Linked DNA regions of Homo sapiens. The protein of the gene in region 2 interacts with the protein of the main gene of each other region in a pairwise test. Each region holds a gene or a part of one and is shown on either strand. Other genes may lie near its edges.

Region 1 (8,547 bases), on a different chromosome or scaffold from region 2:
CTAAATAGGATCACAAGAAAGCAAAGGCCACAGAACTGCCCTGAGCCCAACCCCTCACCAAACTCTGTGCGAGGCATGGAGGCCTGTCCCTTGCCAACGCGGCAGCTGTGACACAGCTGCGCCCCAAAGCCGGTGCTCTGCTGTGGTGCTGCTGGTCACACAGGAGACGTGAGGACCCAGTTGGTGACACACACAGCCTCCACGGACTGAGCAGCAGAAGTAACTCTAGGGCCAGCTAGGATGCCATCAGCCAGGCCCGGTGAGGAGCGACAACCGCACCAGGGCCCAGAGAATAGGGCACATGGGTGTGCTCCCCAGAGGGGCCGCCACCACAGCTGCCAGGCACTTCTGTATCCTGGACTGTGGAGAAGGCCTAGTGGGGTAGGTTTCCTAGTCCCATGCTGCAAAGCTGCCCAATGACTAGGCACTCACACACTCAGCATTCCCCTCACAGGTCACCAGGCCACCGTCACTTTCCTCTCTAACCCTGCCCTCTCCAGCCCTCGTTACTCCCAGTCCACTCCTGAAACACAACTCTGCTCTAGCCTTTGTTACTTGGAGATAGAATAGCTGAGGCAGACGGAAACACAGGAGGGGCAGGTTCAGAATTCAGGACAAAAGTCCCAGTGAGAGACACAGGCTTAGGGGACATATGCTAGGGAAAGTCAACAAAGTGAAACATTCTTCCAGGAAAGCATTTCAAAGACATGGGAGGGGCAGGGCATGGTGGCTCATGCCTGTAATCCCAGCACTTTGGGAGGCTGAGGTGGGCAGACTGCTTAAGGCCAGCAGTTCAAAACCAGCCTGAGCAACATAGTGAAACCCTGTCTCTATAAAAAATGCAAAAATTAGCTGGGCATGGTGGTGGATGCCTGTGGGCTCAGCTACTCTGGAGACTGGGGTGGGAGGATCACTTGAGCAGGAGCCTGAGGTTGCAGTGAGCCATGATCACACCACTGCACTCCAGTCAGGGTGACAGAGAGGGACCCTGTCTCAAAAAACAAAAGACATGGGAGGGATTAGAGGGTCAAAGGCAAGAAAGTGGCAGAGAGTGCAAAAGAGGCCACTTGGCTTGGCAGCCACGCCCACAACCCCACTGCCTGACGCCTTCCAAGAGGTGAAGAAGGAACAGACGGCACTGGCACTGTTCCCGTTTCTCACAGGGAAGCAGCTCCCCATGGGGGCCGTGGAAAGTGCAGACCTTGGCGCCGGCTGTGCTGTCTGACCATGTGCGCCTTCATGCTGTGCTTGGAGGTGAAGAGTCTGTTGCAGGTAGAAACTGGGCAACGGCTTTTCGGAGCACCCACATCCTGCACGTGTTTCTTAGAGTGAATGTACAGACTGCTACGAGCGGAGAACCTCGCGCAACATCCTGGAACAAAAAGAGTAATGAGAGTGAAACCCAAGGATCACCAAGGAACCAGGAACAAGTGACACTTCCCCATCAGATCAGAACCACCAGACCTGCATTTTGCACCCTGGCTACTGGCAAGGACAGAGACCAAATATCTCTAGAAGTAGCATCACAAGCAATTCAAGTCAAAAGCAAACTGTTTTTAAAAAGCAAGAGATACAGTGAAACCCGTAGGGAGATTTGAAGTCCTACCTCAGCTATGCCTAAGCAACCTCTGTGCCTGTTTCTTCACCCACTACATGGAGATGTTGGGAAGATTAAGTCAAATTAAGTATTAACTGCTTAAATATTCAGTTGAAAACAATTTATTCTAGTCATCTCGATTAAGCTATTATCATAAAAAATGTAATCCTAGGATGACATTTAGAGCTGGAAACTATCTTGACAGATCACCAAAGCCAGTCCTTTCACTTTCCCACTGAGACAATGGATGCCCAGGGAGACTGAGCAGGTGTCCTGGAGCCCAGAGCTGGCAACTCCTTGCTTACACTCCCAGTCCACTTATGTCTCTGATCTGCACACAGGCATCAGAGGAAAAACAAGACACATTCAAAGTTACAATCACCTCCCCTCCGTGCCCTGGCTTTCTACTACGCTGGAGCTCTGCCCCATATGGACACAGGAAGGAGACGTGGAGCTCTTGGCGGTCAGAGGCCTATGACCTGGTAGGGGCAAATAGAACAGCCAGTTGCTGCAACAAAGGGCAGAAGGAAGTCAGTGCCAACACTGAAACATGCAAGCAGCAGAGGAAACCACACACCTCCCGAGAAGGCAGAAAAGCGGTCTCAGGAGTATGCAGCCCTCGAGGTGACTGGGCCACCCTGCAGCAGAGCAGATGGTGCTCCTGCCGCAGGAGCTGCCCAGCCAAGGCATGGGGGCATGAAGGGCAGCAGTGCAGGCACCCCAGCCTGGGTTCCAGTTCAGCCTCTTACCAGCAGTGTGGCCTTAGACAAATTATTTATCTTTTGCGGGTCTCCTTTTTCTGTTCTGTGAAACGGGAGTGACACCTACCTCACAGGGGTGCTGAGGGCCCAATAAAGCCATACCTGCCTACAGAGCCTCTGCACGGGCCTAAGCAAGTGGTGCGAGCAACGACGCACTCGCGGCACCTTCTTAAGACGGTGGGGTGGTACTGCCAGAGCCCAGCGCCTGGAGGAGGGATATTTTAAGGAAAGAGGCTATGAAGATAGGATACGGCCAGATGAGTAAGGGCCTTGGATGCCTGTGAATATAGTTTTCAACTACATTTTTCATTTTCTAATACAGCTGCAAACTCGTTTCCAGGTCAGGCTCGTCAAAAACCATCTGGGAAACAAAGGAGACAGTCCGACGGCCCAGGACTGCCCTGCAAGCGCGCAGTTTCCTCTGCATGCCCTGCTCACCATGGTACACAGGGTACCCTGGAACCCCCTTTCCCAGCTGGGGGTCCTGAGCACGGATTTCTAGAGACAGGTCACAGAGCAGAGGCTCTGAGCACATCTTCTGTCAAATGCCTTCTTGATGGCAGGGCCACGCTACAACAGGACCCTTGCACACTCTTGCCAGCACTGGGTTTCCATTTTTTAAAGTACTTGCTAATTCCATAGGCAAAAAATATATTTCATTTTGGTTTGTATTTCCTGCGACAACCAGGAATGTAATCATTTCTCCAAGTGTACTAACTGCTGGCTTTTCCAAATTCTGCCAGTATATTGAGATCTGTTTCCATTCTTTACAAATCCAAGCTGCAACCAGGGAGAGGCAGAAGCAGCCATCACTGACAGACCTGTCTGCAAAGCTGCATTCAGAGGACAGTGAGGCGCTCACATGGACGGCCAGGCAAGCACAAGGCTCGGCAACACGAGACACAGGCCCCAGCACACATAGCCCCGAGGCCGCAACGAGGCCACCCAACACCTGCCCTCAGACATACTTCTGGTCTGTGGCCTTGTCCTTTCCTCCTCCTCCTGTTACTACAAAAAAAGGTAGTTTTGCCTTCTACTTTTTATTACAGAACAGTTCAAACACCTACCAAAGTGGAAAAAATGGTGTCATCAGCCCCAACTATTGCCCAACCCCAAGAATGATCAACTCTCAGTCCAGCTGAGAAGAGGTTCTGGGCTCCTCCCACCAGCTCCAACTCCATCTCCACGTGCTGCCCATACACCACGTGGGGAGTGCCCAGTTTCTCTCCCAGCACAACACCTAGACTTGCTGGAAGAAACAGAGCTCTACAGAAACAAATGCCCTATCCTCCACGGCCAACTCCCACCTTTCCCCTTTCCCCAGTCACCTCTGGCAGAAGTGTCAGCACAAACCATCCCCATCTCCCACTCAGGCCACCTCTCAGGGCACCAGAGCAGGACTCTGCCTGAGTGACCCACGGAACCTCATCCATCAGCACACCAAGACAACCCCGCAGGTGGCACCGAGGCATGTGTTCCCTGGTCCTGGCTCACCCTAGCACTCCAGGTGACCCCCACTTCCACACATTCCCCACTCACCTCAGCACCACCCCCACTGTGCTGTTGCTGGTCCTGCCAGTACCCGTCCCAGCCACTCCACCGGAATCTGGGGCAGCCCCAGGGCTCTGTCCTAGGTCCTTTTTAAGAAAATCTAACAGCAATCACAACAACGACAGTAACTGACATATATACTGATGTTTTCCATATGCGCTAAACTTAGTAACCAATCCAGCCTTCTCAACAACCCTGGGAGGTTTTATTCACTTTACAGATAAGGAAGAGGCACAGAGAGCTTCAAGTGTTTGTCCGAGGCCCCAGACCTACTTACGTGGCAAACTTAGGACTCGAATCCAGGCAGTCTGACTCCAGAATTCAGGCTTTTGATCAACTACACTACCCTGACTCTCCTCCATTTATACTCTTCTTTGAGAATTTCATCCACTTTTGTGGCTTAAATGATGATTCGGGTGCTGTCTGCTTCGCTCCCTGCCTGGCCTGCTCTCCCCAGCACCAGTGGCACATCCCCTGCCCTCTGCGCATTAGACGCACAAGGGTACCAAAAACACAACATGTCCAAACCAAACTCTGCTTCCTCCAAATCCACTCAGCTGACACACTGACATCAACTAAAATCCAAATCCATCACCATATACTGTGACTTCTAACTCCCACCTCTGCTATTGATGCCCCTTTCTCTTTTCCCACTGTTAAGGCCCCCGTCCAGGCCATCCCACCTCCCCACACCCCTGGCTGCTTTCAATCCTGAAGCCAGGCTAAGCCACAACTCAAACATGATGACATCATACGCTCACCCAAGCACTCAAGCCTGCCACTCCTGGCCCTGAGAGGCTCTCCCAGGCCACTCCGCCTCCAACACCCACACGCACGTGTCTGGTGCTCTCCCCTCTTCTTCAGCTGACCGCGAGGCCGTTCTCACCCCGGTCTGGGGAAACTCTCTGCGCCCCTGCAGCACCCTACATGTTACCTGTTCCCCTGTCTGCACCTCCAGCTGAAACTCTGACGGAAGGAGGAACTGTTTCTCAGTTACACCACTTGTATATATGTTCATTATGTTCTAAGAGCTAGGCTCAGCTTTAAATGGGTCTTTATTATTCTCTCTTCCAGGTAAGGAAACCAAGGCCCAGAGAAGCAGCTTGACTGAGGCCACCACTTTAGGGAGCGGTAGAGCCAGACTTTGAATCCATGACCACCCGACGTGTCCTGGCTCACTGCCTCCCAGTGCACCTGCAGAACTAGAGTAGGGCCAGCACGCACAAGTCACGCACAGGTCACGCAGCCAATTTCTGGCAAATGAACTGAGCCTTCAGTGTTTTAAAGGAAAAAACCACTCTACTATACCTTTTAAAAAGTCAGGTTGGGCGTGGTGGCTCACACCTGTAATCCCAGCACTTTGGGAGGCCAAAGTGGGTGGATCACTTGACGTCAGGAGTTTGAGACCATCCTGGCCAACATGGTGAAACCCTGTCTCTACTAAAAGCATAAAAATCAGCCAAGCGTGGTGGCATACGCCTGTAGTCCCAGCTACTCAGAAGGCTGAGGCATAAGAATCACTTAAACCTGGGAGGCAGAGGTTGCAATGAGCCAAGATCACACCATTGCATCCAGCCTGGGTGACAGAGCAAGACTGTCTCAAAAATTAAACAAAAAAAGAAAAAGTCAGTCTAGCTTTACTGCTCTCCAATTACAAAATGATTGGAGTGACAATTCAAACGTGATCTCAAAAGTACCTACCATTTACTGAGTCCGAGCTCCATGCCAGATGGATAAACAGGCATTTTCCACATTTCACCTAATCCTCACGACCACCAAATTAAACAGGTAACTTAACTAGAGCCACAGATCTAATGAGGATCAGGGCCATGAGTCAAACTGCGTCTGATTCTCAAGTCACTGCTCCCAAAATAGTACAATTAACTCAATGAGGTAAGTAAACATAATGCTGCAACTTATATTGAGTCAGTCTTTAAGCAGCTAACATTTACCTTTAAACAACGGAAACTTAACAGGATAAATGTTGGCATTGCACTTAGTTTACTGCTCAAAGCAATGTTTTAAAATCTACCTTCCACAGGACACTCGAACGGCTTTGTGCCTAGGTGGGTTATGCTGTGGCCTTTCAGATGCTCTGCTCTGGTGAATGATTTCCCACAGCCCTCGACAGGGCAGGTAAACCTCCGGTCATCGTCATGTTTCCTGCCAGACAGAAAAATAAAGGAGCTGTGATTCCTCACACAACTCACCATAATTCTTTAAAATTCTACAAAACATACCAAAACACAAACTTTGCATTTACAAAAATGATCAGTACATTTCGGAAAATCTTAATTCTGTCTTTAATCCATGTGAGCAGATTTGCAATTTAGCTACCCCATAAAAATTCTACTTTAATGACTAAGCTGACCCCAGAGTCACACATCAAACAATTAATGCTACTTCAATCTAATATAAGCTAATCTAAGAACAGTGGAGTCCCAAATGTATTGATGAAGGTGTTTCTATTGTTTAGAAACCCCAATGATCAACAAGCTTTCCGAGCGACAGACGGTCGTGAGAAATGTGCACAGAGCATCAGCTGCAATGCCAAAAGGACTCTCTTAAGCCAACTTGTAAAGACTGTGTCTTTTCCTAAGTGACATTTTTATATTAAATCCTCAGAGCCCAGCTGTGCAAGTACAGAAAAACCACTGAATCTCTCCGAGTCTCACTGTAAAACAGGGAGAATAAGAACATTAGCTTTGAGGTTGTTGGGAAGGTAGAAGACACACATGTAAAGTGCTGAGTGTCACCTGGACACAGTCTCCAGGGTTGTCATTACCACCATGAAAACTTGTAATTACATGAAGAAAGCTTATTCTACAATGTTAAGTTAAAAAAAAAACCTGGAATTGTTTTTTTTTTAAGAACAGAGTATGCCAATTTAGCTTTTTTTAAAAAAAGTATACACAGAAAAAACTGACTTCAGGTGATGAGATTCTGAGCAATTTTCTTTTTACAGTTTTCTGAATTTTCCAAATCATCAACACTGAGCTCCTTTTTTAACAACTTAAAAAATGTCTACAGATATTTCATTCATTGGTTTCTGCTGCTGACAAACCACTCATTTTCAAACCTGATAATGCAAACCAAAATGTAAGGATTACCTTCTGTGCCTTAGAAGTTTGGACATGCTGGTGAAGGTCCAGCCACAGCTGTCAGAGTCACAAATAAATGGTCTTTCACCTTATAAAAGAAAAAATTATACAGCATAAAATTTACAACTCCAACAGCTACGATGAAGACAAATCTTGGGTCCAAATGCTGTGCGTTCCCTAGCTCATTACCTGTATGGCTCCGCAGGTGAATTTTCAGCCGACAGGCTTTATCATACTGCTTGCTGCACCCAGGAAAGGAGCAGGAAAAGAGCTCTTGTTCCCTGAAGTGGGCTCGGTTATGGGAAAACAGGGCACTCACTGTGATAAATGTCTTCTCACAGCCTGAACAAGGAAAACACAAACCCTGCTCAAAGCGTGGCAAAAATTATACAACATAGCTAATGCTAGTCACACCCACCAGACCCTGTTCACACTGAAGCAGACAAGGGAAAACATGACTCAGAAGCACTCTCTAAAAAGGGAAGACCATTAATGCTTGGCTTTGTGATCACCACAGGAAGGCAGCTAATGGCAGCCAATAGGCACACGCTGGCCACCTGTTGCAACATGACTTGGAGATGGAGCAACCGATAAAGAGAAAGTCCTCCGTTCACAGCCATCTACTGGCCGGCTCCGGAGCACTGATCCTGCACACACACTGAGACCCAAGAACCCCATGAGAGAAATCAAATACTAAGGAACAAGATTTTGTCTGGTAGGGTTGATCTTTGAAAGGCTACAAATCATCCTACTAGCCAGGATTTTTCACCCCTTGGGGGTGATGCTGCATCCTCTACATATCCAAATTTCCTCCCTGACACCCTCCAACTGCCAGCCCTGTCCCTTGCTGTTTGGATTCTTTTTCCTTTCGCAATTTCCTTAGGTTCCCTGCTTTGTAATCTTCACCTCAATCCTAACCCCTGGCCAAAGCAGCTAAGCCTCAACAATTCCACAGCAATACTTCTCCTCCGACAGAAACATTCAGGGCTCCAACAGGGTGGAAAACATGAGGCTGCAGGATGTTTAACAGGAGTCTTTGCTGCAGCTCCTCTTGGAGCCTTTAACGAGATACTATCATGCCTATGAACTGCCACACAGATGTACATGGCATAGCACTGCCCAAAAGTATCAGCCCAAGGAACCCTACTTTCCCCAGCAACATCTAACTCAGAAATGCTGATCTTTGGCCTCAATCTGGTCCCAAAATACCTCCAGGGTATTTTGGGCTTCGGTGTGTTCACACACTTGGTCATGTAAATCTGAACACAGACTCTCTCTGCCTTGGCAAGAACCCCCCACACCCCCATAGATAATTACACCCTTTGGTTCTCCCTCTGCAATCTCACCTGCTAGAGACCCTCATCATTCCCACTCCCTGGCTCAGGCCTTCAGAAAACTCAGGTCTGGGCCCTTTGATGATGCTTCCCTGGTCCTGCTCCTGCTTCTAAACATCTAATCTCATCTAACCATCTAATCTCATCTCAACACAAGAAGCCTCATGGATCAGCCAACACAAAACCCTCAAGAGACCTCATGC
Region 2 (5,570 bases):
GCCAGAGCCTTCTTCATCCTTCCTTGGGTCACTTCTCCACACAGCCAGAAGAGGGCAACGGTCTCCCAAGTCAGGGTCTTGGCAGGGGTGGAGGATGGGGGACAGCGAGTCCCAGGACATCTCTGTCAGGGCTGAAGACTTCTGTTCAGACCTCACCTGTCCCAGCAGCCCCCATTCCTCATTGCTCCTGGGAGCCCAGCAGCATGTAGATGCCACATTTCCCAGACACCCTCTGGAGCCAGGGCTGGGGCTTCTGACATGGAGAGCTGAAGCTCATGGGGGACATTGGGGAATCCCCTGCAGCCCATGTGGAGTGTATAACAGCAGGCCTGCCAAAGGGCAGCAGGGTGGTAAAGAAAGGCACCCACATCTGTGTGCTGGCACGTAGGGCAGCTCTGTGGGAGAGGAGAGGCCTGATCCCAGACTCCAGGAAGTAGGGAGCTGCAAGAGGGTGTTCTGGCTGAAAGTGGCACAGCACGATGTGTCTGCACCACAGGTGTCCAGTGACCCAACATGAAGTGTCACCAAGAGACACGTGGGTGCAGTGGGTAGAGGGGCAAGTCCCAGGAGGGTCATGGTGAGAGCTGGGCCGGTTTGGATCTTTGTTGACACCACAGCTCCTTGGGAACAGACAATTCCAGACTGGAGGTGGAAATGGAATGCTGTTATGGCAGATTCTGGAAGTCCCAGACAGGGAGAGGCAGGGAGGGAGCAGAGTGGACGCCGCAAGGTGGGAGGGGCATTGGAGGGGCATCCTTCACACCCACTCAGCACTACCGACTACAGCTAGACCAGAGGTCTTCCACTTTGGGGGATGCAGTCCTGTTTCAGGGAGTGATCCAGGCTGTGGGTGACAGCCAGGGTGGGGGCAAGGAAAGTAGGTGGGGTGCTGGCATTTATGATCAGGGAAGGGCTCTCCAGCAAGGCCTGTGCAAGGGAAGTGGGTAGCACGAGGGCCATGTGGAGAGTGCTCTGGGCAAGGCAGACCCAAAGGTGGACACATCTGCCCTGCTCAGAGTATAGCAGGAGCAGAGGTAGAGGTGGGGTCTAGGAGGGCCAGGAGGCACTGAGAGGATGTTTGAGTGCATGACAGTGCTGGGTCTGATGTCACCAGGCTGTGGGCAGGAGGGGAGGTTGGGGGCCAGGGAAGCTGCTCAGCATCCAGGTGGCAGTGTGGCCTGGGATGTCAGTTTGAATGAGAGACTCGTGACATCTTCATTTGAGTAAGGGACACAGGGACATGAGGGTTTCTTTGTTCTGCAGGTGTGAAAAGGGGAGAGGGAGATGCTGAAGCCTTTTCTGGCAGACACGGAGCTTTGTGTGCATTTCTGTCTGCGGAAAGATGACGCACATTGTTACGAGGCCAGAAGTCATCCGCAAACACCAGTCAGAATTGTGGGTTTTCAGAGGTACAGGTGGCTTTGACAGGACACAGCAGTCTCTAAAGGGTCCTCTGTTGAACAGGATGGAATCTGATGTTCCACACAGGTCCCTGCCGCACAGGAGTGGTTGAATGATGCCTCCATGCAACTCAACTTGCCAGGCCCTGAGAGCCAGCTGGGTTTCTTCTCTGTGTACAACGGGGTCTCTCTCCACACTAGTGACTCCTAAGACCAAGCTCAGTGCCATTAGCATGCACTGACAGAACTGGAGATAGGCTGGTAAGGCTCACACCTGGCAGTGTGGACAGAAAAAAGGGTGAAATATGTAACAGTGTAAGGAGTGGTGTGAGACGTTTTTCTGGTACAGGTGGGAGAAGTGAGAAGCACCTGGATTTGGGCTGCACTCTGAGGTAGAGCTGACAGGACTTGCCAGTGGTTTGGTGTGGGTGTCGAGGAAGAGGGGAGTCAAGGGACAGCCAGGATTTTGGCCTGAGCCAGAAGGTAGACCGCAGTAACGTTTGCTGAGATGTGGAGTCCCAGGGAGGGTGGGTCCGTGGTCATCAAGAGCTCTCACTCATCTGCAGCCCCATGCAGCCTAATCACCCAGTGCTCCTCCCACCCCTCCCTGATGCCCTCTGATCTGGACTGCCACCCCAGAGGATCCCCTGCTCCCCTTGCCTCCTCCACAGTTAGTGGGTGCAACTGTGACTGTCTATGTTCCTGCTCCTGCTGCAGCACTGCCTTCCAAGTGATATTCTATTTATTGTTTCAGATTGTGACACCAGGACTGAAGACAAGGAGTTTCTTCACAAGGAAGACATTCATGAAGATTTGGAATCACAGGCAGAAATATCAGAAAACTATGCTGGTGATGTTTCCCAGGTACCCGAGCTTGGAGATCTGTGTGATGATGTATCAGAAAGAGACTGGGGAGTCCCCGAAGGCAGGAGGCTGCCACAGTCCCTCTCCCAGGAGGGGGACTTCACACCAGCTGCCATGGGGCTCCTTAGGGGCCCCTTAGGGGAGAAAGATCTGGACTGTAATGGTTTTGACAGTCGCTTCAGTCTGAGCCCAAACCTGATGGCATGTCAGGAAATCCCTACAGAAGAGAGGCCACATCCATATGACATGGGTGGCCAGAGTTTCCAGCACAGTGTGGACCTAACTGGTCATGAGGGGGTTCCCACAGCTGAAAGTCCACTCATATGTAATGAGTGTGGGAAAACCTTCCAAGGAAATCCTGACCTTATTCAGCGTCAAATAGTCCACACTGGGGAGGCTTCCTTTATGTGTGATGATTGTGGGAAAACCTTCAGCCAGAACTCAGTTCTTAAAAACCGTCATCGATCTCATATGAGTGAGAAAGCTTACCAGTGCAGCGAATGTGGGAAAGCCTTCCGAGGGCACTCAGACTTTTCTAGGCATCAGAGTCACCACAGCAGTGAGAGGCCTTATATGTGTAATGAATGTGGAAAAGCCTTCAGCCAGAACTCGAGCCTTAAAAAGCACCAAAAGTCTCACATGAGTGAGAAGCCCTATGAATGCAATGAATGTGGGAAGGCTTTTAGGCGGAGCTCAAACCTCATCCAACATCAAAGAATCCATTCTGGGGAGAAACCGTATGTGTGCAGTGAGTGTGGGAAGGCCTTCAGGCGAAGCTCAAACCTCATCAAACACCACAGGACTCACACAGGAGAGAAGCCTTTTGAGTGTGGCGAGTGTGGGAAAGCCTTCAGCCAGAGTGCACACCTGAGGAAGCACCAGAGGGTCCACACTGGAGAGAAGCCTTATGAGTGTAATGATTGTGGCAAGCCCTTCAGTCGGGTCTCCAACCTCATTAAGCACCACAGGGTTCACACTGGAGAGAAGCCCTATAAGTGCAGTGACTGTGGGAAAGCATTTAGTCAGAGCTCCAGCCTTATTCAGCATCGGAGAATTCACACTGGAGAAAAGCCTCACGTGTGTAATGTATGTGGAAAAGCCTTTAGTTATAGCTCAGTGCTCCGAAAGCACCAGATCATCCACACGGGAGAGAAGCCGTACAGATGCAGTGTCTGTGGGAAGGCCTTCAGCCACAGCTCAGCCCTCATTCAGCACCAGGGCGTGCACACAGGCGACAAGCCCTACGCCTGCCACGAGTGTGGGAAGACCTTTGGTCGCAGCTCCAACCTCATCCTTCACCAGCGAGTCCACACTGGAGAGAAGCCCTATGAATGTACTGAATGTGGAAAAACCTTCAGCCAGAGCTCAACCCTCATTCAGCATCAGAGGATTCATAATGGGCTGAAGCCCCATGAATGTAACCAGTGTGGTAAAGCCTTCAACCGAAGCTCAAATCTCATTCACCACCAGAAAGTTCATACTGGGGAAAAACCCTACACCTGTGTTGAATGTGGTAAGGGCTTCAGCCAGAGCTCACACCTCATTCAGCATCAGATAATCCACACGGGCGAGCGCCCCTACAAATGCAGTGAGTGTGGGAAAGCCTTCAGTCAGCGTTCGGTCCTCATCCAGCACCAGAGGATTCACACTGGGGTGAAGCCCTATGACTGTGCTGCTTGTGGGAAAGCCTTCAGCCAGCGATCAAAGTTGATCAAACACCAGTTGATTCACACCAGGGAATAGGCTGTTGGGCTGGCAGGAGTGAAACCGAGCATAGTTTCCTCTCCAACTCCTCTTTGGCCATTGTCTCAGCCTCTGCCACTTCCCAGACCGAAAGCCTGGACTCAGCTCACTGCCTACATCCAGTGGCCACATAGCCTGGGACCCTCCTTTGAAACATCCTTTACAGGCTCCCTTCTCACTGCCACTGCTCTTGCCTCTTGTGATGTCTTGGGTTTGGGCTTGTTTTTACAGCTTGTGAACGGACTGCACGTTTGTTACAAGGGAGAAGATTATGGAGGCTGCATATTCATGAATAGAGTTTATTATTATAATGAAAAGTTACCAAAAAAGTAAAGTGACGTTTGGTTTGAGATAACCATAGTAGTTTGTTTGATTGGTAATGAGTTGTGTGGCGTGAATTCTTTGTCACTGGCTGTAATTGATATTTTAGGTAAGTCGAGAGTTTTTCAGGTCCAGTTGCTCTGTCATCTTCCCCAGAAGTGGTACCTACTCATCACCACCAATTCCCTGCCCTTCTTTGTCCCTCCTGTTCCAGAATTTGAACCCAAGGCTCCCCCGCCACCCTACTTTTCTTTATACAGATCTGCAATCTGAGGTCAGCTTTCTCCTCTCACTGGTCTGCTGTGACTTAGGCCCCCATATCCTGTTCTGGGCTGCTGCACAGTTCCACATGGCTGTTCCAGCTTCTAGTTTCTGGGCCACAGAGGAAGCTCTCTCCATGGACCTCATTTTCATGCCCATGAGCTTCCAGGCTGTTTTTTCCACCTAGTAAGTGCCCTGCCTTGAGGGCCTAGCTCACTTACCCCCATCCTTAGTTCTCAGAGCTGTGCTCCTGTTCCCTGAGCAAGGAGAAAGCCCAGATGCTGAGAGGCCCCTCCCTGCTGGCCAGCAGGTCTGGGGGTGTCAGGACACAGTTTCATGGAAAACCTAGCCCTGACCTGTTTTAGATAAAAGTTTTGTTGGAACACAGCTATGCCCATTTGTTTACAGATAGCTGTGGCAGCTTTTGTACCACAGAATTGAGCAGTTGTGATAGATCCCATATGGTGCACAAAGCCAAAGTATTTACTTCTGGTCCTTGATAGGAAAGTTTGCTGACCCTGCCTTAGGATGCTCCCTGTGACCTAAGTTGCCTCTTGGGACTCAAGAGTTCTTGCAGGAGTTAAAGTGTGTTTTGTGACCAAGGGACTATTCTGTACTGTGGAGTGGTTGGCTGTGTGCAGGTGGGTGATTGCTGCAGAGTTCCCACAGCCACAGAGCATCCATCCTCTTTACCACTCCCCAACACACAGTACGCCCTCTGGAGAGATGCAAGACCTAAGTGTTGACTGAGTTCTTACTGCAGTTAAGAGTTTTGTGAAGATTGAATAAAATGGTATGTGTAAGTGTTTTATTTTATTTTTTTGAGACGGAGTTTCGCTATGTCACCCAGGCTGGAGTGCAATGGCGCGATCTCAGCTCACTGCAACCTCCACCTTCCGGGTTCGAGTGATTCTCCTGCCTCAGCCTCCCAAGTAGCTGGGACTGCAGGCGCCCACCACCACACCCAACTACTTTTTGTAT
Region 3 (8,547 bases), on a different chromosome or scaffold from region 2:
TTTCTGAGTGAAGTGGAAATTGGGGACAAGGACAGATGTTATCATCTTTTGGTTACAGGTGCAGTTGCATCCCAAGAAACACTACAGCCAGGACACCTGCATTTTTTTTTCTTTTTTTGTTTTTTTTTTTAACAACGTTACTGAAATATAACTCACATACCATAAAATTCACCCATTTAAAGTATACAATTCTTTCTAATATAATTAACTTTTTGAAGTGGTAAAATATATACAACATAGATTTGCCATTTTAACAATTTTTTAGTGTACAATTCAGGGGCATTAAGTACATTCACAATAGTGTGCGATCATTGTCACTATCTATTTGCCAAACTTTTCAATACCTTAAACAGAAACACAGTAACCATTAAGCAATAACTCTGTGCTATGGTTTGGATATTTGTACTTACCAAATCTCATGTTGAAATTTGATCCCCAGTGTGGCAGTATTGGGAAGTGGGGCCTAATGGGAGGTGTTTGGGTCATGGGGGCTGATCCCCAGTGAATACATTAATGCCCTCCCTTGGAGGTGAATGGGTTTTTGCTCTATCAGTTCTCACTAGAGCTGTTTGATAAAAAGAGCTTGTACCTCCCCGCTGTCTCTCCTGCTTTCTCTCTGGTCACATGCTCTCTACACAGCCAGCTCTCCTTTGCCTTCTGCCATGAGTAGAAGCAACTTGAGGCCCTCACCAAATGCAGATGCCCAATCTTGAGCTTCTCCAGACATCAGAATCATGAGCTAAATAAACCTTTTTTCTTTATAAATTATGCAACCTCGGGTATTCCTTTGTAGCAGCATGAAAGAGACTGAGACTTCTCATTGTTCCCTTCCCCCATTCCCAGGGAACATCTAATCTGCTTTCTGCCTCTACGAATGTCCCTTTTCTGGGTATTTTATATAAGTGGAATCATATTTGTCATTTTTTGTCTGGCTATTTTTTTTTTTTTTTTTTTTTTGAGACGGAGTCTCGCTCTGTCACCCAGGCTGGAGTGCAGTGGTGCGATCTCAGCTCACTGCAAGCTCCGCCTCCCGGGTTCACGCCATTCTCCTGCCTCGGCCTCTTGAGTAGCTGGGACTACAGGCGCCCGCCACCACGCCTGGCTAATTTTTTTGTAGTTTTAGTAGAGACGGGGTTTCACCGTGTTAGCCAGGATGGTCTCGAACTCCTGACCTCGTGATCCGCCCGCCTCGGCCTCCCAAAGTGCTGGGATTACAGGCGTGAGTCACCGCGCCCGGCCTTGTCTGGCTATTTCACTTAGCATAAAGTTTTCATAGTTCATCCATGTTATAGCATATGTCAGAATATCACTCCTTATTTTGGCTGAATGAAAAGGAATATCCTTTGTATATATATGCATTTTATCACTTCTCAGCCTTTTGGCCGAGATCAAGTGTATGTACCGCGTTTTGTTTATTCTTATGTTGATGGACAACTTGGGTTGTTTTCATCTTTTGGCTATTGGAAAATGCTACAATGAACAATAGTATACAGGTGTCTGAGTGGCTGATTTCAAAACTTTTTGAGTGCATTCCTAGCAGCAGAATTGCTAGGTCATATAGTAATTCTCTGTTTAGGTTTTGAGGAACTGTCATATCATTTTGTATGACAACTTCACCATTTTACAGTCCCACTAGCAATGTACAAGGATTCCAGTTTTTCCACATCCTTGCCAACACTGATTATTTTCTGTTTATTTTTAGTATAGCCATCCTAGTAGATGTGAAGTTGTATTTCATTGTTGTTTTGATTTGCATTTCTGTCGTGATTAATGTTGTTTAGCATCTTTTCATGTGCTTATTGACCATTTGTATGTCTTCTTTAGAATAATGTCTGTGGAAGTCCTTTGCCTTTTTTTTTTTTTTTTCCTGGAAACAGGCTTTTGCTCTTGTTGCCCAGGCTGGAGTGCAATGGCATGATCTTGGTTTACTGCAGCCTCCGCCTCCTGGGTTCAAGCGATTCTCCTGCCTCAGCCTCCCGAGTAGCTAGCTGGGATTACAGGTGCCTGCCACCACACTCGGCTAATTTTTTGTATTTTTAGTAGAAATGGGGTTTCACCATGTTGGCCAGGCTGGTCTCGGACTCCTGACCTCAGGTGATCCACCCGCCTCAGCCTCCCAAATTGCTGGGATTACAGGTGTGAGCCACTGCGCCCGGCCCCTTTCCCATTTTTAAATTGGGTTGTCTTTTGTGTTTATGAGCAGTAGAGTTCTTTATATATTCAGAATATGAAACCTCTATCAGATATATGATTTCCAAATATTTTCTCTCATCCTTGTCCTTTCACTTTCTAGATAATGTCCTTTGATGCACAAAAATTTTAGTTTGTTTTTGTTTTTTTGAGACAGGGTCTATTCTGTTGCCAAGGGTGGAGTGCAGTGGTGCAATCACAGCTCACCTGCAGCCTTGACCTCTCAGGCTTAAGTGATCCTCCCACTTCAGCCTCCCATGTAGCTGGGACTACAGGCATGCACCACCATGCCTGGCTAGTTTTTAAATTTTTTTGTAGAGATGGGGTCTCCCTATGTTGCCCAGGCTGGTCTTGAACTCCTGGGCTCAAGCAATCCTCCCACCTTGGCCTCCCAAATTGCTGGGAATGCGGGTGTGAGCCACCACACCCAGTCAGTTTTAACTTTTGATGAAGTTCAATTTATCTATTTTTTTCTTTTGCTGCTATCCTTTTGGTGTCCTATCTAAGAATCCATTGCCAAATCCAAGATCATGAGGATTTACCTCTATGTTTTCTTCTAAGAGTTTTGTGGTTTTAGCTCTTACATTTAGATCATTGAGATAACTTTTGTATATGGTGTGAGATAGGTGAGGTTCAACTTAATTCTCTTGTGTATGAAAATCTAGTTTTCCCCATAACATCTGTTGAAGAGACTATTCTTTCCCCACCAGTTAGAGTTGGCACCCTTGTCAAAAATCATTTGGCCACAGATATGTGGATTTATTTCTGAACTCTCAAATTCTTTAAGGACAGAAACATTTTCTTCAGGCTGGGCATGGTGGCTTATGCCTGTAATCCCAGCACTTTGGGTGGCCGAGGTGGGAGGATCACTTGAGTTCAGGAGTTTGAGACCAGCTGGGGCAACATGGTGAAACCTCATCTTCACAAAAAATTACAAAATTAGCTGGGTGTTGTGGCACATGCCTATGGTCCCAGCTACTAAGGAGGCTGAGGTGGGAGGATTGTTTGAGCCCAGGAGGTCGAGGCTGCAGTGAATTGAGATCGCACCACTGCACTCCAGCCTGGATGACTAGAGTGAGACCCTATCTCAAAAAACAAAAAAAAAGAAGGATTTTCTTCAAATTTCTGACAGCGTCTAGTACAGTATCTCTTGATAGCAGGTTCAAATGTTGAATGGAAAAACTGAAGCCTGGACATTTATCATAAGAAAACTTTTGTTGTGAAGGTACATCTCCCCTTGAGAAAACAAATAGAGCATAGCTGCTGCAAATCATACAAAACCATAGAAAAATTTAAAAGACATGTACGACCAGGTGCGGTGACTCATGCCTGTAATCTCAGCACCTTGGGAGGCCAAGTCAGGTGGATTACTTGAGCCCACAAATTCAAGACCAGCCTAGGTAACATGGTGAAACCTCATATCTACCATAAATACAAAAATGAGCCGGGTGTGGTGGTGTGTACCTGTAGTCCCAGCTACTTTGGAGGCTAAGGTGGGAGGATCCTTTGGGCCCAGGAGGTTGAGGCTGCAGTGAGCATTGAATATACCATTGCACTCCAGCCTGGGCAGCAGAACAAGACCCTGTCTCAAAACAAAAACAAAAACATGTACAGATGCTTCTTGACTTGTGATGGGGTTATATCCCAATAAACCCATTGCAAGTTGAAAATATTATAAGTTGAAAATGGATTTAGTACACCTAACCTATCAAACATCATGTCTTAGCCTTGCCTACCTTAAGTGTCCTCAGAATACTTACCTTAGCCCACATTTGGGCAAAATCATCTAACACAAAGCCTATGTTACAATGAAGTCTTGGCTGTCTCCTGTAATTTTTTGTACTGTAGTGAAAGTGAATGGTTGTATGGGTACTCAAAGTATGGTTCCTACCAAACACGTATCTCTTTTGCACCATCTTAAAGTCGGAAAATCATTAAGTCAAACCATTATAAGCCGGGGACCATCTGTATTTGACTTTGGAGTGCTTTCAGAACATTTGGTGGGCATTTAACTATTTGTTGAGTTAATGGATTACATTTGCTCATTCTGATATTACTTTGTATAGACCATCCAGAGAATCACCAGTTACGAAGAAGTAAGTTGACTTTTGTGTGAGGATATTCTCAAAATGAAAAATCAGCTGATGGGCCAAAGTATCTTAAAGTCTGTTTTAAGTAAACATTGATCTCTGTGCTTTAGTGCCTTTTAGAATAATTATTCATGTTTACTTCCTTTCAGACCTCTAACCTAAATCTCTATTTTATTTCATGTTTCCCTAAAGACTCACTAGTGGGCATATTTTTACGTGCATTTGATGAGTTGACTAGTGGTTTTTAATGATTTTCCCTGATATGAATGGCCAAAAAACAGATGTCAGTCTGTTAACCTGTTGCATTTGTGGCTATTAAGAGTGTTTTCTATGTGTGCTCTCCTGCTTTTGAGCCAGAAGAGCAATTTCAATTAAATTTTAAAGTGGTGAAATTGGAATGGAATGTGTAAACTGACAGAGGTCATAAGACTAGTGAAACTGCTGGGATAGGTGATAGAGAAGCCCAAAAGCAGGAGGCAGAGTTGATTTTGGACATTTTTCTTAAACATTAGATGGGATTTGTTGATGGGAATTATTGTTTGTGGTAAGATCATTTGAAAAGTTTTCTTTGCTCTGTGTGCATTATTGGCACCCTCTACAGCTTTGTTAGAAAGTTGGATAGGTAATAAGAACCCAGGACTGGCAGTGGAGATGGCACTTGGAGGGATATGTGTTACTGATTTCCCCGTAATGAAGGAGAGAGGCTAGACCAGGTGATTTTATTGTTTTTTGTTTTCCAGTGCTGAAAATTGTATGACTCTCTCATATTTTGGTTAAGGCTGTTGTTATAAGATACTGGTCACTTTAATCCTTGCATAGAAAGCAGTTTTTAAAGTTAATCTCTGCCTTTTAAAATGGTACAAAATTTGAAGTATTTCAGCCTTTTATAAGCTGAATATACTTTTAATGTTCCAAAGAATAATTTCGTTTGTTTTGTTGTTGTTGTTTTTTGCTTTTGGAACAGGGTCTTGCTCTGTTGGCCAGGTTAGAGTGCAGTGGCATGGTCATGGCTCACTGCAGTCTCAAACCCCTAGAATCGAGCGATCCTCCCTCCTCCCATGTAGCTGGGACTATAGGCACGTGCCACCACACCCAGCTAATTTTTTTTGGTGTTACTCTGTTGACCAGGCTGGTCTCGAGTTCCTGGCTTCAAATGATTCTCCTGTCTCAGCCTCTCAAAGTGCGGGGATTACAGGGATGAGCCACCATGCACACTCCAAGGAGTAATTATAACAGTATTTTATAATTATTAACCATTTATAAAAAGATTTTTTTAGTGTTTTGCTTAAAATAATGGATAGCATGAACAAGAAAATTGAAATATTACTTTGTATTAAAACAACATTTTATTTAATCAGAGAAAAACTGGCAAAGAGAGTAACAAATTTTATATTGATTTGTTACTTGGTTTAAGAAGAAACATCAATTTTGATATATAGTTATATAAGTAGAATTAGAATGCTTCAAATTTGCCAGATAATTGCTTCAGTACTTACTCTTATCTTTGTTTATAATCCTCTCCTGTCATGTACACTTTTAATTATTGGAGAATTAAAAATTGCTATTTTTTAAGTAGTCCTTAAATAATTGTTGAATGCCTGAATGATTGTTCATAGTTTAGAGAAGAAAAAATGTTTTAATGTGATCATGATTTCTAATCTTTCTTATAATTGGTGGTATTGCCTTTTATACTTCTCCATGAAAAGGTATTATAATTAAGATGTTGTATCTTAGTGTGATTTAGTAGTATTTGGAATTCCTTATAATAGAAAACAGAGCAATTGTTTTAGGTTTGAATACCTACATTACTGAACTTTCTAGAGTCTCTGAAAATTGAAGAGCAAAACTTGAATAGCACCCCTAAATACATTCTGATTTACAAAGGATGCCTTATCAAAGTTTATATTATGCTGTTTGGCTTATTTTTTATATTATATGTATGTATAATATGTATATATTATATATAATATGTATATATAATAAATATAATATGTATATAAATATATATATAGTATTTATATGTACTCCAGACTGGGCAACAGAGTGAGACCCTGTCTCAAAACAGATATGTATATCTATATATATCTCTCTCTATCTACCTATCTACCTATCTGTCTATCTATATCTGTCACCCAGGCTGGAGTACATGTAATTATACTATCTTATACTATCTGTCTATCTATAATAGATCTATATATCATATCTATATATATAATATATATATATATGTTTTGAGACAGGGTCTCACTCTGTCACCCAGGCTGGAGTACATATAATTACATTGTGTATATACGTGTGTGTGTATATATATATGTATGTATATAGTATCTACTATATATAATATATAATATATATTATTATTTTGGACATAGATACTATTTATATATAGTATATATCTATATATTATCTATCTATATTATCTAATTAGATATCTAATTAGATCATATAGATATAGATACTATATATACTATATTATATATAGTATATTTAGTATATATAGTGTATATAGTAACTATATATTATATATAGTATATATATAGATACCTGTTTTGAGACAGGGTCTCACTCTGTCATCCAGGCTGGAGTGCGGTGGCATGATCACTGCAGCCACTCACTGCAGCTTCTAACTCCTAGGCTCAAGCGATCCTCCCACCTTAGCCTCCCCCAGTAGCTGGGACTACAGGTGCATGCCACCATGCCTGGCTGGCTTATTATATTGCTATGTATTCTTTTTGTTTTTATTGTTGTAGGATACCCTCTGGTTTCATAGGGGATAATCCTTAAGAGTAGAAAAGTTCACAAATTTGTGTGGTGCTAATTTTATAAAAGAGAGATTTATTTTAGGTACAAATATTTATCTAGTTTTTATTCTAAAATCCTTGGCTTTTCTGGCCCGTTGGATTGCTTTTATGAGTGCTAATTTCTTCTTTAATATCTTTTTGGCTGGGTATGTGGTGGCTCATGCCTGTAATCCCAGCACTTTGGGAGGCCGAGGCAGGTGGATCACTTGAGACCAGGAGTTCGAGACCAGCCTGACCAACATGGCAAAACCCCATCTCTACTAAAAATACAAAAAATTAGCCGGATGTGGTGGCATGCAGTTGTAGTCCCAGCTACTCAAGAGGCTGAGACATGAGAATTGCCTGAACCCAGGAGGCAGAAGTTGCAGTGAGCCAAGATCATGCCACTGCACTCCAGCTTGGGGGACAGAGTGAGGCTTTGTCTCAAAAACAAACAAAAAACTTTTTAATAATTTGTGACTTCTGGCTGTTTCCAGACAGAAAGGGTTAGCAGTCTCCCATTTTTAACCAGGAGAGAGCATTCTTGAGCATCTGTAGGAAACAGGCACTAATTAAGGAAAGGGCTAAACTAGGATAGATCTTGGAAGCAAAAAATAGTTGAATTTAGGATACTTTGGCAGGAGTGAAACTGTTAATCCCAAATCTTCAAATGTGAGGGTTTCCTATGCATGTGAATTTATGTGCACTTCTGATTTTAGTACAGCTTAATTAACACTGCAGCCCAGTTACTGTTTAGTTCATTGCATAGTACAGTACTGGGCTCTAGTTCTGGGTTGGATCCTGCCAGTTACATGAGCAAGGCACATAACTTTTGTGGATTCATCATTGGCACTAGTAAATTAAATGGGCTTAAGTAAGGGGATAAATTAAGTTCACTCTTTGAGAGCAGACCAGCATATCCCTGTCTGCTTCTTGCAAACTCATTAGTTCTTTGAAGTTATCTAAACAGATTTTGAAAGTTATGTTCCACCATAGTGTAGCCTTCTAAAATAAAGATTACATTTTAAATTAGTTGCCACTTTAACATTGATGCTCCCAGAAGATACATTGTGTTTATCCTGGAGTTTGATGTATTCCCTGACTCATAGCCTTGGGGCTTCTTACGCTTCAACTTGAAAAGCATAGGACCCAGAGGATCTCTTAGGTCTCTTGCAGCTCTGATATGCTATAACACTTGCAACAAAGGAGAGTTTGTTCTTTAGTTTTGATAAAGTATACCTTTAAGAAATTATAAATCCATAACAGGGAAAAATATGACTGACTGATTTGCATGATGTAACATCTTTCTCTGAGAATTAAAGATTGCAATTCTATTTTATGTAGAAGCTGTTTCATCTGAAACTCCATGTAATTTAATAAATGGATTGCAAAATTAGAAAAACCCTTTGTAGATGTCATCATTGTTGCTTTCAATCTTTCTTTGCTGCAATTCTGCTTTTTTCTTTCCTGGCTGCTAATTGGATTAA

What was found. Proteins that work in one complex are often made in the same cells at the same time.
Region 1: the proteins of ZNF16 (region 2) and ZXDC interact in a two-hybrid assay, tested with the Homo sapiens proteins (one study listed by IntAct).
Region 3: the proteins of ZNF16 (region 2) and FAIM interact in binary tests that used the Homo sapiens proteins (3 or more experiments, as listed by UniProt).

What each region holds. Positions count from the first base shown.
Region 1 is NC_000003.12:126,464,954-126,473,500, forward strand, and holds part of ZXDC (zinc finger protein ZXDC), read right to left. Parts: intron 7,353-8,547; coding exon 7,200-7,352; intron 7,099-7,199; coding exon 7,020-7,098; intron 6,073-7,019; coding exon 5,942-6,072; intron 1,373-5,941; coding exon 1,202-1,372; intron 1-1,201. UniProt on the Homo sapiens protein: Cooperates with CIITA to promote transcription of MHC class I and MHC class II genes.
Region 2 is NC_000008.11:144,929,175-144,934,744, reverse strand, and holds the end of ZNF16 (zinc finger protein 16), read left to right. Parts: intron 1-2,154; coding exon 2,155-4,007; 3' UTR 4,008-4,387; downstream 4,388-5,570. UniProt on the Homo sapiens protein: Acts as a transcriptional activator. Promotes cell proliferation by facilitating the cell cycle phase transition from the S to G2/M phase.
Region 3 is NC_000003.12:138,611,162-138,619,708, forward strand, and holds part of FAIM (fas apoptotic inhibitory molecule 1), read left to right. Parts: intron 1-8,547. UniProt on the Homo sapiens protein: Plays a role as an inducible effector molecule that mediates Fas resistance produced by surface Ig engagement in B cells.